Homo sapiens: one gene and its partner. The protein of the gene in region 1 binds, or shares a complex with, the protein of each later gene. Each region holds a gene or a part of one and is shown in the gene's direction. Other genes may lie near its edges.

What was found.
Region 2: the proteins of CD69 (region 1) and S1PR1 are in contact, whole or in part, in a cryo-EM structure (PDB 8G94), measured with the Homo sapiens proteins. Residues at the interface, in NP_001772.1 of Homo sapiens: Val41 (codon at 1,586), Ala44 (codon at 1,595), Val45 (codon at 1,598), Val48 (codon at 1,607), Val49 (codon at 1,610), Thr52 (codon at 1,619), Ile53 (codon at 1,622), Ile56 (codon at 1,631), Ile59 (codon at 1,640), Ala60 (codon at 1,643), Val63 (codon at 1,652); in NP_001307659.1 of Homo sapiens: Asn157, Leu160, Phe161, Ile164, Ser165, Trp168, Val169, Leu172, Ile173, Gly176, Ile179, Met180, Gly181.

What each region holds. Positions count from the first base shown.
Region 1 is NC_000012.12:9,751,752-9,757,948, reverse strand, and holds the end of CD69 (early activation antigen CD69), read left to right. Parts: intron 1-1,529; coding exon 1,530-1,652; intron 1,653-2,687; coding exon 2,688-2,887; intron 2,888-3,258; coding exon 3,259-3,362; intron 3,363-4,359; coding exon 4,360-4,468; 3' UTR 4,469-5,463; downstream 5,464-6,197. UniProt on the Homo sapiens protein: Transmembrane protein expressed mainly on T-cells resident in mucosa that plays an essential role in immune cell homeostasis.
Region 2 is NC_000001.11:101,232,027-101,240,207, forward strand, and holds the start of S1PR1 (sphingosine 1-phosphate receptor 1), read left to right. Parts: upstream 1-4,992; 5' UTR 4,993-5,073; intron 5,074-6,795; 5' UTR 6,796-6,958; coding exon 6,959-8,107; 3' UTR 8,108-8,181.

The sequences.
Region 1 (6,197 bases):
CAAATTTTTACTGTTCATTCACATATCATTTTAAATTGAGGTTTAGTTCACATACGATGAATGCACAGCTCGTAGGTATACAGTTTAACGACTTATGACAGTGGTATAACCACAAGACCAGCAACATTTGAATCTTTCCATCACCCTAGACAGTTTGCCCTGTGTCCCATTCCAGTTAAATTACCTTTCCTACACACACAAAGGCAACTACTGTTCTGATTTTTGACACCAGAGCTTAGACCAACTATTATTTAAAGTCATGTAAATGCAAATATGTAGTATACAATCTTCTGTGGCTGGATTTTTTTTCACTCAACATTTTTTTTGGAGATTCCTTCATTTTGTTGCATGTATCAGTTGTCTTATTTTGAATTGCTGAGCGGAATTCCCTTGTATGGATATACCATAATTTGTTCACTTATTTTCCTGTTGGTGGATATTTGGATTATTTCTGGAATTTGGCTCTTAAGAATAAAGCTGCTAGGAGCATTCTTGCACAAGGCATTTTGAGAACATATTTTCATTTTTCTTGAGGATATACATAGGAGTAGGTTTGTTGGGCCATAGAAAAGGCATATATTTAATTTTATAAGAAACAGTTTCCAAAGTGTTTTTCCAATTTACTCTCCCACCAATAATATCTGAAAATTCCAGTTGCTCCACATCTGCAGCAACTTCACCAAAAAATACTGTCACGTTTAAAATTTTGTTCAGTCATTTTAATGTCAGATATTTATATAGCAATTCAATATTTTACTTTATGATATTATCCATATTTATCCCATTCACATCATTTCTCTCAAACAGTAACTACAAGGAGATTAAGGAATTATGCTAGAATTTTTTATTTATTTATTTATTTATTTTTTTAGACAAGGTCTCACTCTGTCACTCAGGTTAGAGTGCAGTGGTGCAATCTCCGCTCACAGCAACCTCTGCCTCCCAGGCTAAAGCGATCCTCCCACTTCAGACTCCCAAGTAGCTGGGAACACAAGTGCGTGCCACCATGACCAGCTAATTTTTTGTATTTTTGGTGGAGACAGGGTTTCACCATGTTGCTCATGATGGTCTTGAACTCCTGAGCTCAGGTGATCAATCCACTCACCTCGGCCTCCCAAAATGCTGAGATTACAGGTGTGAGCCACCATGCCCTAGAATTTTTTTATGTGTCTTCTGGGGCATGTGCATATTTAATAAACGTTCTTATCATCATTAAAACAAACTGATTATATACTTAGAATTTTCATAGTTACTAAGTGTATAAATCATATGTGTCAGGTAAATATTTTGGGGAGACACTTTATAATCTCATCATTATGCTTGAATTGTTTCATTTCAAGCCAACAATAAACTATTCAAATTCACTCAAAATTGGGGGTAAATTAACTTAGAAATTTCTATAAAGAGACGGGGAAATTTCATATAATGAGATAGGAAATATTAAGTTTAAATGCCTCAAAAGAATGTTGCATATTCCTATAGTACTTCTATAGTCTGCCTGAACTCATCATCAACTTTCTCCCTTCCAGATGATGCCACCAGTCCCCATTTCTCAACACGTCATGAAGGGTCCTTCCAAGTTCCTGTCCTGTGTGCTGTAATGAATGTGGTCTTCATCACCATTTTAATCATAGCTCTCATTGCCTTATCAGGTGGGTCTACACTTCATCAATTCTTTCAAAGCCTCCTAGCTGTAAGCATTCATGCCCAGCTGAAATCAATATTAGTTTAGTCTAGTTAATCAGAAACTAGCTAATTCAGAATCATCCCATGTACCATATATGGCCAATTTCCTAATCAATACTAAACATAATTCCACAATCCTTGAATAATTAATGTAATACTTTTATAAGTATTAAAAGTATCTATGATTTATATATTACTGTAGAATAAAATTGCATTTGAAAAGATGTTTACATCTAGAATGAAGGGAGCTGATTTGAATTCTGAATAAATACCTATTTAGCTAGAAAAAAATGTGAACTTCACATTCATTGATTATGGAAAAAAATCGTATCTAAAGCCATAGATTAATCAGGAAGTGGCCAGTCTTTTGTGTTTTATCTCAAAGGACACAGAATGGTAGTTCTGAATAATTAAGATTATATTTAAAAGTTCCCAGAGAGTCAGTAGTGATTTGGTATTCAATACCTCCAGCTGTACCAAGATATATTTGTATCTTTTACAAATGGGAATGTTTACCATTGTTTTGAGATATTCTGAGTCATATGTCTTTCTGTATTTTGAATTGGTTCCCTAAAAGTTAGTTACTCTCTCCATCTTTCCAGCCTAGTGCTATAAATACTGCATCTTCAAATTCTTCCGCCTCTGCATTCAGATTCAAAACCTTATTTGAAATGTATAATGCACTTTATCCTTTCTAGTCCAAAGAAATATCTAGTCCAAATTTTCAGAATTGTTCTATATTTCTGTCATTTTCTGACATTATGACCAAAAGTACATCCCCTCATCCTCATATCTCCATCCAATGATGATTAGGCACAATGGAAGATCAGATATGGTCCTGAGAACTTTCTTTCTTCATACCCTTTTCAGAATTCTACTTTTTAGCTTTTATCCTTTACTTTATCACCACCTAGCACAACATAGCATCCTAAGGCTAGTTTTGCATGCTGTGGGTATTTGGTTTCTTTTGTTACTAAAACAAAGCATTTTTCTGTTCACAGTGGGCCAATACAATTGTCCAGGCCAATACACATTCTCAATGCCATCAGACAGCCATGTTTCTTCATGCTCTGAGGACTGGGTTGGCTACCAGAGGAAATGCTACTTTATTTCTACTGTGAAGAGGAGCTGGACTTCAGCCCAAAATGCTTGTTCTGAACATGGTGCTACTCTTGCTGTCATTGATTCTGAAAAGGACATGGTAAGAATAAAAAAAAGATAAAATACTACTATTTTAATTCATATGGCTAATCAGTGCTTTCCTTCCGTTTCTAAGTGGAGAAAACAAACAAACAAACAAACATTGTACCTATTTCAGATGTAGGAAAATGTCATCCCAGAGAACCATATGATCAGCCTGAGGTCAAAATGAGATTTAATTTAATCTTTTAAATTTGATTTGATTGCTTAGCTTCAAAGACCAGAAATCCAAATATGCTGATCCTATATAGAATGAGTACATGGTCAGATAAGCTGTCATGCCTCAAGTTGCAGCTTTTGAGAAACAGGATTTACTATCTACTTCCCCAGAAGGGTGTTTAATGTAACAAACTCCTTTGTGCTTTCTTTAAGAACTTTCTAAAACGATACGCAGGTAGAGAGGAACACTGGGTTGGACTGAAAAAGGAACCTGGTCACCCATGGAAGTGGTCAAATGGCAAAGAATTTAACAACTGGTAAGTCTCCAGAAGTCTCTTTATATTCCCCAGGGTGGCATCTCAGGAAAATCACTTTCCTTTTCTCCTTTCAAAGCACTTTAAATATAAAGGCTGAGCTCTTCAAGAGCTCTAACAATCTCTTCTGAATGCGTATACTCTGGAATTCTTTAATAACAGGCTTTATTATTATTCTTTTTCTTTATCCACACTTATAATACATAAAATAAATGCTTATAGTAATTTTTCTCAGCAAACTCTAATGTGAGTAGTAGATCTGGTTAATTTGGAAATATTTCAATAATAATTATGATGATGCAACAAAAACCCATTTTCAATGTCACATTTAGTCTTTACTAATAAGACAGTTGCTGGAAAATAAATCCTTCTTACTATTTCTCAGTTTTCATCTCCACAGAATAAAGAATAGTTTCAATGCCTAATTATGAGTTTCTATACACCTGAAAGAAAATTTGCCCCAGAATTAGATACTCTATTTTCATTACCTTTAGTTAAAATACATTTAATGTTTGAAGATCATTTTATAAGTTTGCTGTTGATCATAATACTGATAAAGTATCGAGATTAAAATTCAGGTTTCTAGAAAAGGGATTCCTAATATTTGTCCTATGGCTCCATATCCACAGATGGGCTTCAGGAGCCATAAACCCCTTAAAGCTGTATGCACTAGTATGCATGGCTGTTGAATGCATACAATTTTGTGAAATTATTTATTGAAAAATCTATGAACTCAGAAATGACCAAGAATCACTTATCTGGTGCCATGCCAACCAAATGAATGGCGTGCTTTCCTCTTACTTCCATATTTTTTCTCCACATCCTATTTTTTTTTCAATTCTTGTCCATTGTCTCTACAGATTAGTCTATGATTATTTGACTTGTGTATCCCACTAAGAATTTAAAAGAAGCAGAGGTCACCATCTCCGAGTTCATTCTCATGTAACTGAATGAAAACAATGAGCTGAAAATAATTCTAAGTTTTTTTATTGTTTGACAGGTTCAACGTTACAGGGTCTGACAAGTGTGTTTTTCTGAAAAACACAGAGGTCAGCAGCATGGAATGTGAGAAGAATTTATACTGGATATGTAACAAACCTTACAAATAATAAGGAAACATGTTCACTTATTGACTATTATAGAATGGAACTCAAGGAAATCTGTGTCAGTGGATGCTGCTCTGTGGTCCGAAGTCTTCCATAGAGACTTTGTGAAAAAAAATTTTATAGTGTCTTGGGAATTTTCTTCCAAACAGAACTATGGAAAAAAAGGAAGAAATTCCAGGAAAATCTGCACTGTGGGCTTTTATTGCCATGAGCTAGAAGCATCACAGGTTGACCAATAACCATGCCCAAGAATGAGAAGAATGACTATGCAACCTTTGGATGCACTTTATATTATTTTGAATCCAGAAATAATGAAATAACTAGGCGTGGACTTACTATTTATTGCTGAATGACTACCAACAGTGAGAGCCCTTCATGCATTTGCACTATTGGAAGGAGTTAGATGTTGGTACTAGATACTGAATGTAAACAAAGGAATTATGGCTGGTAACATAGGTTTTTAGTCTAATTGAATCCCTTAAACTCAGGGAGCATTTATAAATGGACAAATGCTTATGAAACTAAGATTTGTAATATTTCTCTCTTTTTAGAGAAATTTGCCAATTTACTTTGTTATTTTTCCCCAAAAAGAATGGGATGATCATGTATTTATTTTTTTACTTCCTCAGCTGTAGACAGGTCCTTTTCGATGGTACATATTTCTTTGCCTTTATAATCTTTTATACAGTGTCTTACAGAGAAAAGACATAAGCAAAGACTATGAGGAATATTTGCAAGACATAGAATAGTGTTGGAAAATGTGCAATATGTGATGTGGCAAATCTCTATTAGGAAATATTCTGTAATCTTCAGACCTAGAATAATACTAGTCTTATAATAGGTTTGTGACTTTCCTAAATCAATTCTATTACGTGCAATACTTCAATACTTCATTTAAAATATTTTTATGTGCAATAAAATGTATTTGTTTGTATTTTGTGTTCAGTACAATTATAAGCTGTTTTTATATATGTGAAATAAAAGTAGAATAAACACAATGGTTTCCAAGAAAGTTCATTCCTTCAAAATACATTAAAAAGTATATACTATATGAGAAAGCAGAAAACAGTTACTATAACTTAGGAAAAAATCCCATGTAGAGTAAAACCCTTAGTTTTATAATAGCTTATACATATCAAATTGTTTTCATATGCTTATATGCTAAAGGGTGTATGTATCCATATCCATTTTTCTGTATATAGCAGATGCTCTGTAATAATTACTCCTCATAGTCAATGCTCTGAAAGTATCTTGTTCAATTCTGAGGTGCTACATACACTTTAGTTATTTATGTAAAATAATTCAATATATAGAAAAGAGGCATAATCTTCATGGGATATTTCAATCAGCAAAAAACTCAATGATGTAGTTTGGATGTGTGTCCCTGCCCAAATCTCATGTCGCATTGTAATCCCCTTTGTTGGAGGTGGGGCCTGGTGGGAGGTGATTACATCATGGGAGCGAATCTCTCATGAATGGTTTAGCATCATCCTCTTGATGGTCTCCTTGCACCTGAGTGAGTTCTCAGGAGATCTGGTCTTTTCAAAGTGTGCAGCACTTTCTCTCTCTCTCTCTCTCTTTCTCTCTCTCTTTCCTGCTTTCTCCATGTGACATGCCTGCTCCCACTCCACTTCACCTTCCAACATACATAAAAGCTCCCTAAGCTTCCGCGGAAGCTGAGCAGTGTCAGCATTATGCTTGTAAAAACTGCAGAACCGTAAGCCAATTAAGC
Region 2 (8,181 bases), on another chromosome or scaffold:
AGTTAGAATGGTGATCATTAAAAAGTCAGGAAACAACAGATGCTGAAGAGGATGTGGAGAAATAGGAACGCTTTTACACTGTTGGTGGGAGTATAAATTAGTTCAACATTGTGGAAGACAGTGTGGCGATTCCTCAAGGATCTAGAACTAGAAATACCATTTGACCCAGCAATTCCCTTACTGGGTATATACCCAAAGGATTATAAATCATTCTACTATAAAGACACATGCACACATATGTTTATTGTGGCACTATTCACAATAGCAAAGACTTGGAACCAACCCAAATGTCCACCAATGATGGACTGGAAAAGGAAACTGTGGCACATATACACCATGGAATACTATGCAGGCATAATAAAGGATGAGTTCATGTCCTTTGCAGGGACATGGATGAAGCTGGAAATCATCATTCTCAGCAAACTAACACAACAACAGAAAACCAAACACTGCATGTTCTCACTCATAAGTGGGTATTGAACAATGAGAACACATGGACACAGGGAGGGGAACATCACACACTGGAGCCTGTTGGGGGTGGGGGGCTAGGGGAGAGATAGCATTAGGAGAAATACCTAATGTAGGTGACGGATTGACGGGTGCAGCAAACCACCATGGCACGTGTATACCTATGTAACAAACCTGCACATTCTGCACATGTGCCCCAGAACTTAAAGTAAAATAATAATAATAATAATAATAATAATAATAAAAGATGGAGGTGGTGGATGGGTGAAGCATTTTCTCTGTAGTGTAGGGAATTCTCACAGGTATGTAGCTCCTTAATCCTCACAATGAAAGAGGCAAATATCATTATTTCATTTTACAGATGAGGACACTGAGGTTCAAGGAAGTTAAAAGAACTTGCCTAAAGTCACATAGCTTAGAACTGGCAATATCAAGGCTGAACCTAAGTGTCTGTTCCAAGGCTCAGTCATGTTCCACTAATTTTGAATGTTGGCAAACGAGGAGAGAGAGATATTGGGACCTAGGATGAAGGGAAGAAAGAGTTTTTGGTAGAGAAAACACATAAACATTTATGTAAGTTGAAAGTAAAGAGTCCTCAGAAGCTAAGAACTGAAAGTACAAGGGAGAATAAGAATAATTGAGCCAAGTCTCAGAAAGTTTGGAGGAAGCAGCATGCTGACCTGGGCAAGAGTTTGCCTTGGAAAGGAGTAAAGTTGCTTTTATTTCTGAAACAGGTGGGAAGGAGGTAAGGGTGGGTAAAGTTGCTATTAAGCTGGAGCTTGGAGAGGAGGGAAATTGAGATGGTCATACTATTTCCTCCTTGAAATAAGAGGCTAGTTATTCTCCTGTGAATAGACAAGTAAGGGAAAGCCTGGATTTTTACCAGTGACTGGGTCAGGGGAGGGAAGAGGGGAGAAAAGGGAGTTGGAAAGTGACTGGAGCAATTAGGAAAGAGAGTAAGGCTCAGGCTTGTAATCCCAGCACTTTGAGAGTCCAAGGTGGGAGGACTGCTTGAGCGCAGGAGTTCAAGATCACCCTGGGCAACAAAGTGAGACTCCTGTCTATACAAAAAATAAAAATAATAATTATCAGGACATGGTGACTGGTGCCTGTAGTCCCAGCTGCTTGGGAGGCTGAAGTAGGCGGATCCTTTGAGGGCGGGAGATCAAGGCTGCAGTGAGCTATGATTTCGCCACTGCACTCCAGCCTGGATGACAGAGCAGAGCCAGACCCTGTCTCAGTTGAAAAAAAGAAAAAAAAAAAGGAAAGGGAAAAGAGTAGAGTTGCAATATTTAGCAGATAAAAAATATAGCTCATGGCTGGGCTCGGTGGCTCATGCTTGTAATCCCAGCACCTTGGGAGGCCAAGGCAGGTGGATCGCCTGAAGTCAGGAGTTCGAGACCAGCCTGGACAACATGGTGAAACCCCATCTCTACTAAAAATACAAAACTAGCTGGGTGTGGTGGTGCATGCCTGTAATCCCAGCTATTCAGGAGGCTGAGGTAGGAGAATTGCTTGAACCTGGGAGGCGGAGGTTGCGGTGAGCTGAGATCACGCCACTGGACTCCAGCCTGGGCAATAGAGTGAGATTCTGTCTCAAAAAAAAAAAAAAAAAAAAAAGATAGCTCACACAGTTACATTTGAATGGCACATTTATGACAAATTTTTGTTTAGTGTATGCTCCAAAGATTGTGTGGTATTTTATCTGTAAACTTTTAAAGAGAAACACTAAAGCATGTGTAAAGAACAACAAAGCCACTTTGAAATCAAAAATTGGAAATGGAGCAAACTTAAGGTAGGAATGTTGGGCTTGACTTCTAGGCAGCAGCAGACAGGGAGTTGTACTGGCAGTCAGGAGATAGCTTGAGAATGCAATTTTTAGGGCCTCCTTGGAGAGCAATGGGAAGAGACTTATATGGGAACTAGAGACTTGGAATTGGCCAGGACGCCATTGCTGGAAACATTTGCCTACTATCTAATTTTACCTAAGTTGATCATCTACAATTACATCTCATAGGTGTGTACTAAAGATGAATATTATTAAATAACAATCTGAAAGGTTTTTGGACTCTGTAAAACACTTTATCAATATTGAATGTTAAAAACCAGTGGTATTCACAAGAAAACAACTGATATCCCCAAGGAAATTCTTGAACCTGTTTGAGGTTTATCATGGTGGTCTGGAGTAGTGGTTAAGAGTCTGCAGCCTGTCCCACATTAAGCAAGCTGCTTAATATGTCTGGGAGTCAATTTCCTTGTTTGTAAAATTAGAATAATTATAGTGCCTAACTTGTCAGATTAAATGGATTAATATGTGTAACACTATGTGCAAATACTAAAAGTACAATGTTACATGAGATATCATAGGCAGACAATGAGAAGTTTCAGAAAACATTCATTAATATGCATATGTATACACTTTGTATGCTTACGTAGAAAATGAGTGGTTTTAAAAGGACATTCATTAGCATACTTTTATATGCATTTTGTAGACTTGTACAGTCAGAAATGCAGCAAATGTAAAACTTTAAATCTAGAAGTCTGTTTCCCTCTAGGAACATATATTTCAATTCCTTAACTATTTATTGACTGATAGCGTTTGAGCCACAAGGCAAGGCATTTGCAATATTTAGGTTTTGGAACCCAGCTCTGCCACTCACTAGCTGGGAAATCTACAAGTCACCTTAGTTGTCTGAATGACACTTCTCTCAACAATAAAATGGCCAGCAATGCTTACTTACTTCACAGAGCAGTAAGGTTAAATTAACCTAGCACATGCTTGATACAGACTAGGTGTGAAATTTCACTTTGATTCCTTTGGCTTTAAAGAATGCATAAATTAGTGTGGGTGGAGGCGGGAGAAGGGGGGGAATGCCAAGTCCCCCGTTTTGTTGTGCTGGGTAGACACAATATACCTCTTCCCCTTTAAGTGAAATAAGTCTTCAAATCCAATTAGGATCTACTCTGGAGTCTTAGAGGACCGTTATCTTGGTTTCCACATTATATGCACTGTACTGTTGTTGAAGCTGTGGGTATGTATTGGGTGCGTCGCTGTCGATGAATGCTTTAAAACAGCTGTGAATTAACTGTCACTTCTTTTTTTTTTTTTTTTGGCAAACTCACAAAATCCCAGAAGTCAGGGGTCTGTTGTTTGTTCATTCTGCCTCCTTCTGAGTCATTCAGGTACAGGGTGTGTCTGCCAATTGAAACTGCACAGCGGAGGAAGTTTTTGAGTTCACATCTGCCGGGATGGGAACGCAGTGCGACCAGGGACTGGGTGGAAACTTTTACAACAGTAATGCAAGGGCAGAAGCGTCCTGTCCTGAGCTTGTCACGCAGGCAGATCTGACCAAGTCCGCCTCTCAGCCTCACGTTCTTAAGTAGCATCTAAGCAAAAGAAAAGGGTGGGCAAAGTGCTAGTAATGAGATTTGAGGCCTCTGAGTCGACTCCCAAGCAGAATGTGAGAGAAGGGTGCCGGCTCCTGCTGGGCAGCTGCAGTTGCTCCGCAGCTCCTGGCCGAGAATCTCCCCCTTTGGAAATTCCTGAGCTGCCCAGGCGTTTTGAATCTCTCAGGACTCAGCAGCAGCCCACCCCCTCAACGACCTCTCCATTGGCCAGAATCTGGGACACACAGCCTGACTTTGTGCTCAGCTGAGGGAAACCCCTCGCCCAACACCAAAACCGGCGCTGGTTCATTTCTCTGTGCACTCTGGGAAAGCCACTGCCCCTCAGACCGCAGTTGCGAGTAGCACGAGGATCTGGGGTGGCGGGGGGAGTACAGGAACCTCCCGGTTCATTCTCCCTCCCGGGCTGCTTGTCTCCTCCGTACCTCTCGCAGCCCCTTCCCAGCCTCTCCTCCCCAGAGCGCCGCCGACACTCGCCGGGCCGCGGCTCAGGTTTTCTGCTGCTCGCGCGAAAGTGGCTCGGGGAGCTCCTGGCCACAAGCTCAGCACACCGATCCTCCTAGGGCTGCGGGGGGTGTGGGACCAGGGCGGTGCGCTACGAGACTCCGGGCCGTCCTCTGCCTCCTCAGACTTTTCGAGAGAAAAGTTTTCAAAGTCTCTCCACCTTTTTTTTTTTTCAGGGGCTCGGGAGAATCCTCTCCACAGCCAGGGATCAGCGTCTATCTGGGCGAGGGCAGTGATTTATACAGTAGAATCCAGGGGTTACCGGGCTCCGCCCCTTCTCTCTCTCTCTTTTTTTCTTTCATTTGTTGTTTGGGGAGGAGGGGTTCTTTTTTTTTTTTTTTTTTTTTTTTTTGCTTCTGCCCCAGATCTTTCCTGGACAGTGCGTCTCAGCAGTTCAGATCCGGGGGCCCCCAGCTGACAGAGGGCGTGGGGGGTTAAGGCATTAACCCCTCCCAGCCTCTTCCTGAAGAAACCACCCAGCCTTGGCGCGGCGCTGGGTGACTTCGCGTAGCAGGCAGGGAACTGGCCGCGGCGAGCGGGACTGGCCATTGGAGTGCTCCGCTGCGGAGGGAGGGGACCCCGACTCGAGTAAGTTTGCGAGAGCACTACGCAGTCAGTCGGGGGCAGCAGCAAGATGCGAAGCGAGCCGTACAGATCCCGGGCTCTCCGAACGCAACTTCGCCCTGCTTGAGCGAGGTAGGGGGCGGCGAATGGCGGGGGTCGCGGGCGCGGGGAGCCCGGTTGTGGTAGGGCTTAGGTGTCAGAAACGAATTTTTAAGTCGAACGAGGCAAACAAAAACTTAGAAAACATGCATCTCCGGGCGCTGAAAATTTGCATCTCTGGGCTACTAAGGAGCCCATCTCGATCAGATTGTTCTTGGGCACTTGTGATTTATGGAGTTCAGAAAAAAGGTTAATTCCCAACTGTGGAACCTACGGGTGTAGGGGCAGTGAAAATTGCAGTTGGTCGGAGGAATAGGAGGGAAGGCGTTAAATTTTGGAAATCCTATAGACAAAGAATATGGTGGGTGGTGTGGAGCGTGGGTAATGGCTTAAATTAGTACTGCCCAGGAGCAGGGTATAAAATTAGTTGGGGGAAAATGCGGAGCTTCTTGGCTTGAGCAGCCTCTGCTGTTCGCGGAGTTGCTGGGATTGTTCTCATCTCTATTACCTCATTTTATTGCATTGCTGCATTACCTTGAAATATTTAAGCAACTTAGAAGTAGACTTCTGCTGACCAGTGCCGTCTTAGAAAGTTTCTTTGTAACTTTCTAGTCCTAGGAGAGGAGTCAACGTGTTGGGGGACTGCAGTAAATAAAACTGCCCACGCAAATTTAGCAATGCACCAGGGAGCAGTTTAATGTGAGTTTCTGAAGAGTAGTTTTGCAATCGAAATTAGAAATGTGGTAGCATGTATTATGGCTGTCATGAGTAGTTTGATTTCTCTCTTTTGTGTATGTTTTGGCTAAACTAAACAAAGCAAAAAATATTTATGCAATCAACTAATGTACGAAACTTCTGGGATTTGCTGCAATCTGTTATGAATGGTTTTAACTGAATACCTTTAAATTTACTTGCCCTGGCTTGGGGTGGGGGGTGGGGTGGGGGGGCGCGGGGGGAGGCGGGGAGAATAAGAAGAAGAAAGAAAAGGCAGTCGCTTCACGGAGGCGCTAAGCTTTCCTGTTTACAGCAAGGCGGGGCGGGCCTGGCTGCCCACACCTCACTGCGCCCTCGGACCCTAAGCACACCTGCTCCTAGAGAGTTATTAATAGAGCCCCCAAATGGCTTACGCTTTCAAATGATTTTCCTGCAAATCTGATTTCTTGCATGGCACATGGCAATTAGGAGGTGGTGCTAGTATCTTTGAACTGGGGGGCTGGGGGTGGGCATGGGGGACAGAGGTGTGTGTCTTCGCCCTCAGACTGGCAGTTGAGTCTTTTCCGAGGAGAGACGTGGGCTGGTATTGAGCGTGCAGCTAAGCTGGTGACTGCTTCAGAGAATCTCATGGCTGGAAATCCGGGGGTGAGGGGGTGTGGGGTGGTGAGAGGGCAGGAGTGGAGTTAAAATGGGGTGTAGTTCTCTAGGTTTCCCATTCCTCCCACTCCTTGTTTTCCTTTTCATCATCTTTTTTTTTTTGTCAACCCACAGCCAACATCGTAATTCCCATTTCCCTTTGAGTGAATGTGGCCATAGAGTTTCTCCCTCTCTTTTTCTTCCCCCTCTTCCTTTTTTGAAAAAAGAAAAAAAAGGAAGAAAAAAGATAATTTGATTTTTAAAAAAAATCTCTCTCCCTGAGCTCTCCCCAAGTTTCTTTAAAACAAATCAACAACAACACAATTGGAGCAGTGCCTTAGCTAGAATGAATTATGCCAGTATGCTGTGGCTCTTTCCCTGACTCTCTCCTCTGACTTGTTTAAGGCTGCGGTTTCCGAGGCCCTCTCCAGCCAAGGAAAAGCTACACAAAAAGCCTGGATCACTCATCGAACCACCCCTGAAGCCAGTGAAGGCTCTCTCGCCTCGCCCTCTAGCGTTCGTCTGGAGTAGCGCCACCCCGGCTTCCTGGGGACACAGGGTTGGCACCATGGGGCCCACCAGCGTCCCGCTGGTCAAGGCCCACCGCAGCTCGGTCTCTGACTACGTCAACTATGATATCATCGTCCGGCATTACAACTACACGGGAAAGCTGAATATCAGCGCGGACAAGGAGAACAGCATTAAACTGACCTCGGTGGTGTTCATTCTCATCTGCTGCTTTATCATCCTGGAGAACATCTTTGTCTTGCTGACCATTTGGAAAACCAAGAAATTCCACCGACCCATGTACTATTTTATTGGCAATCTGGCCCTCTCAGACCTGTTGGCAGGAGTAGCCTACACAGCTAACCTGCTCTTGTCTGGGGCCACCACCTACAAGCTCACTCCCGCCCAGTGGTTTCTGCGGGAAGGGAGTATGTTTGTGGCCCTGTCAGCCTCCGTGTTCAGTCTCCTCGCCATCGCCATTGAGCGCTATATCACAATGCTGAAAATGAAACTCCACAACGGGAGCAATAACTTCCGCCTCTTCCTGCTAATCAGCGCCTGCTGGGTCATCTCCCTCATCCTGGGTGGCCTGCCTATCATGGGCTGGAACTGCATCAGTGCGCTGTCCAGCTGCTCCACCGTGCTGCCGCTCTACCACAAGCACTATATCCTCTTCTGCACCACGGTCTTCACTCTGCTTCTGCTCTCCATCGTCATTCTGTACTGCAGAATCTACTCCTTGGTCAGGACTCGGAGCCGCCGCCTGACGTTCCGCAAGAACATTTCCAAGGCCAGCCGCAGCTCTGAGAAGTCGCTGGCGCTGCTCAAGACCGTAATTATCGTCCTGAGCGTCTTCATCGCCTGCTGGGCACCGCTCTTCATCCTGCTCCTGCTGGATGTGGGCTGCAAGGTGAAGACCTGTGACATCCTCTTCAGAGCGGAGTACTTCCTGGTGTTAGCTGTGCTCAACTCCGGCACCAACCCCATCATTTACACTCTGACCAACAAGGAGATGCGTCGGGCCTTCATCCGGATCATGTCCTGCTGCAAGTGCCCGAGCGGAGACTCTGCTGGCAAATTCAAGCGACCCATCATCGCCGGCATGGAATTCAGCCGCAGCAAATCGGACAATTCCTCCCACCCCCAGAAAGACGAAGGGGACAACCCAGAGACCATTATGTCTTCTGGAAACGTCAACTCTTCTTCCTAGAACTGGAAGCTGTCCACCCACCGGAAGCGCTCTTTACTTGGTCGCTGGCCACCCCAGTGTTTGGAAAAAAATCT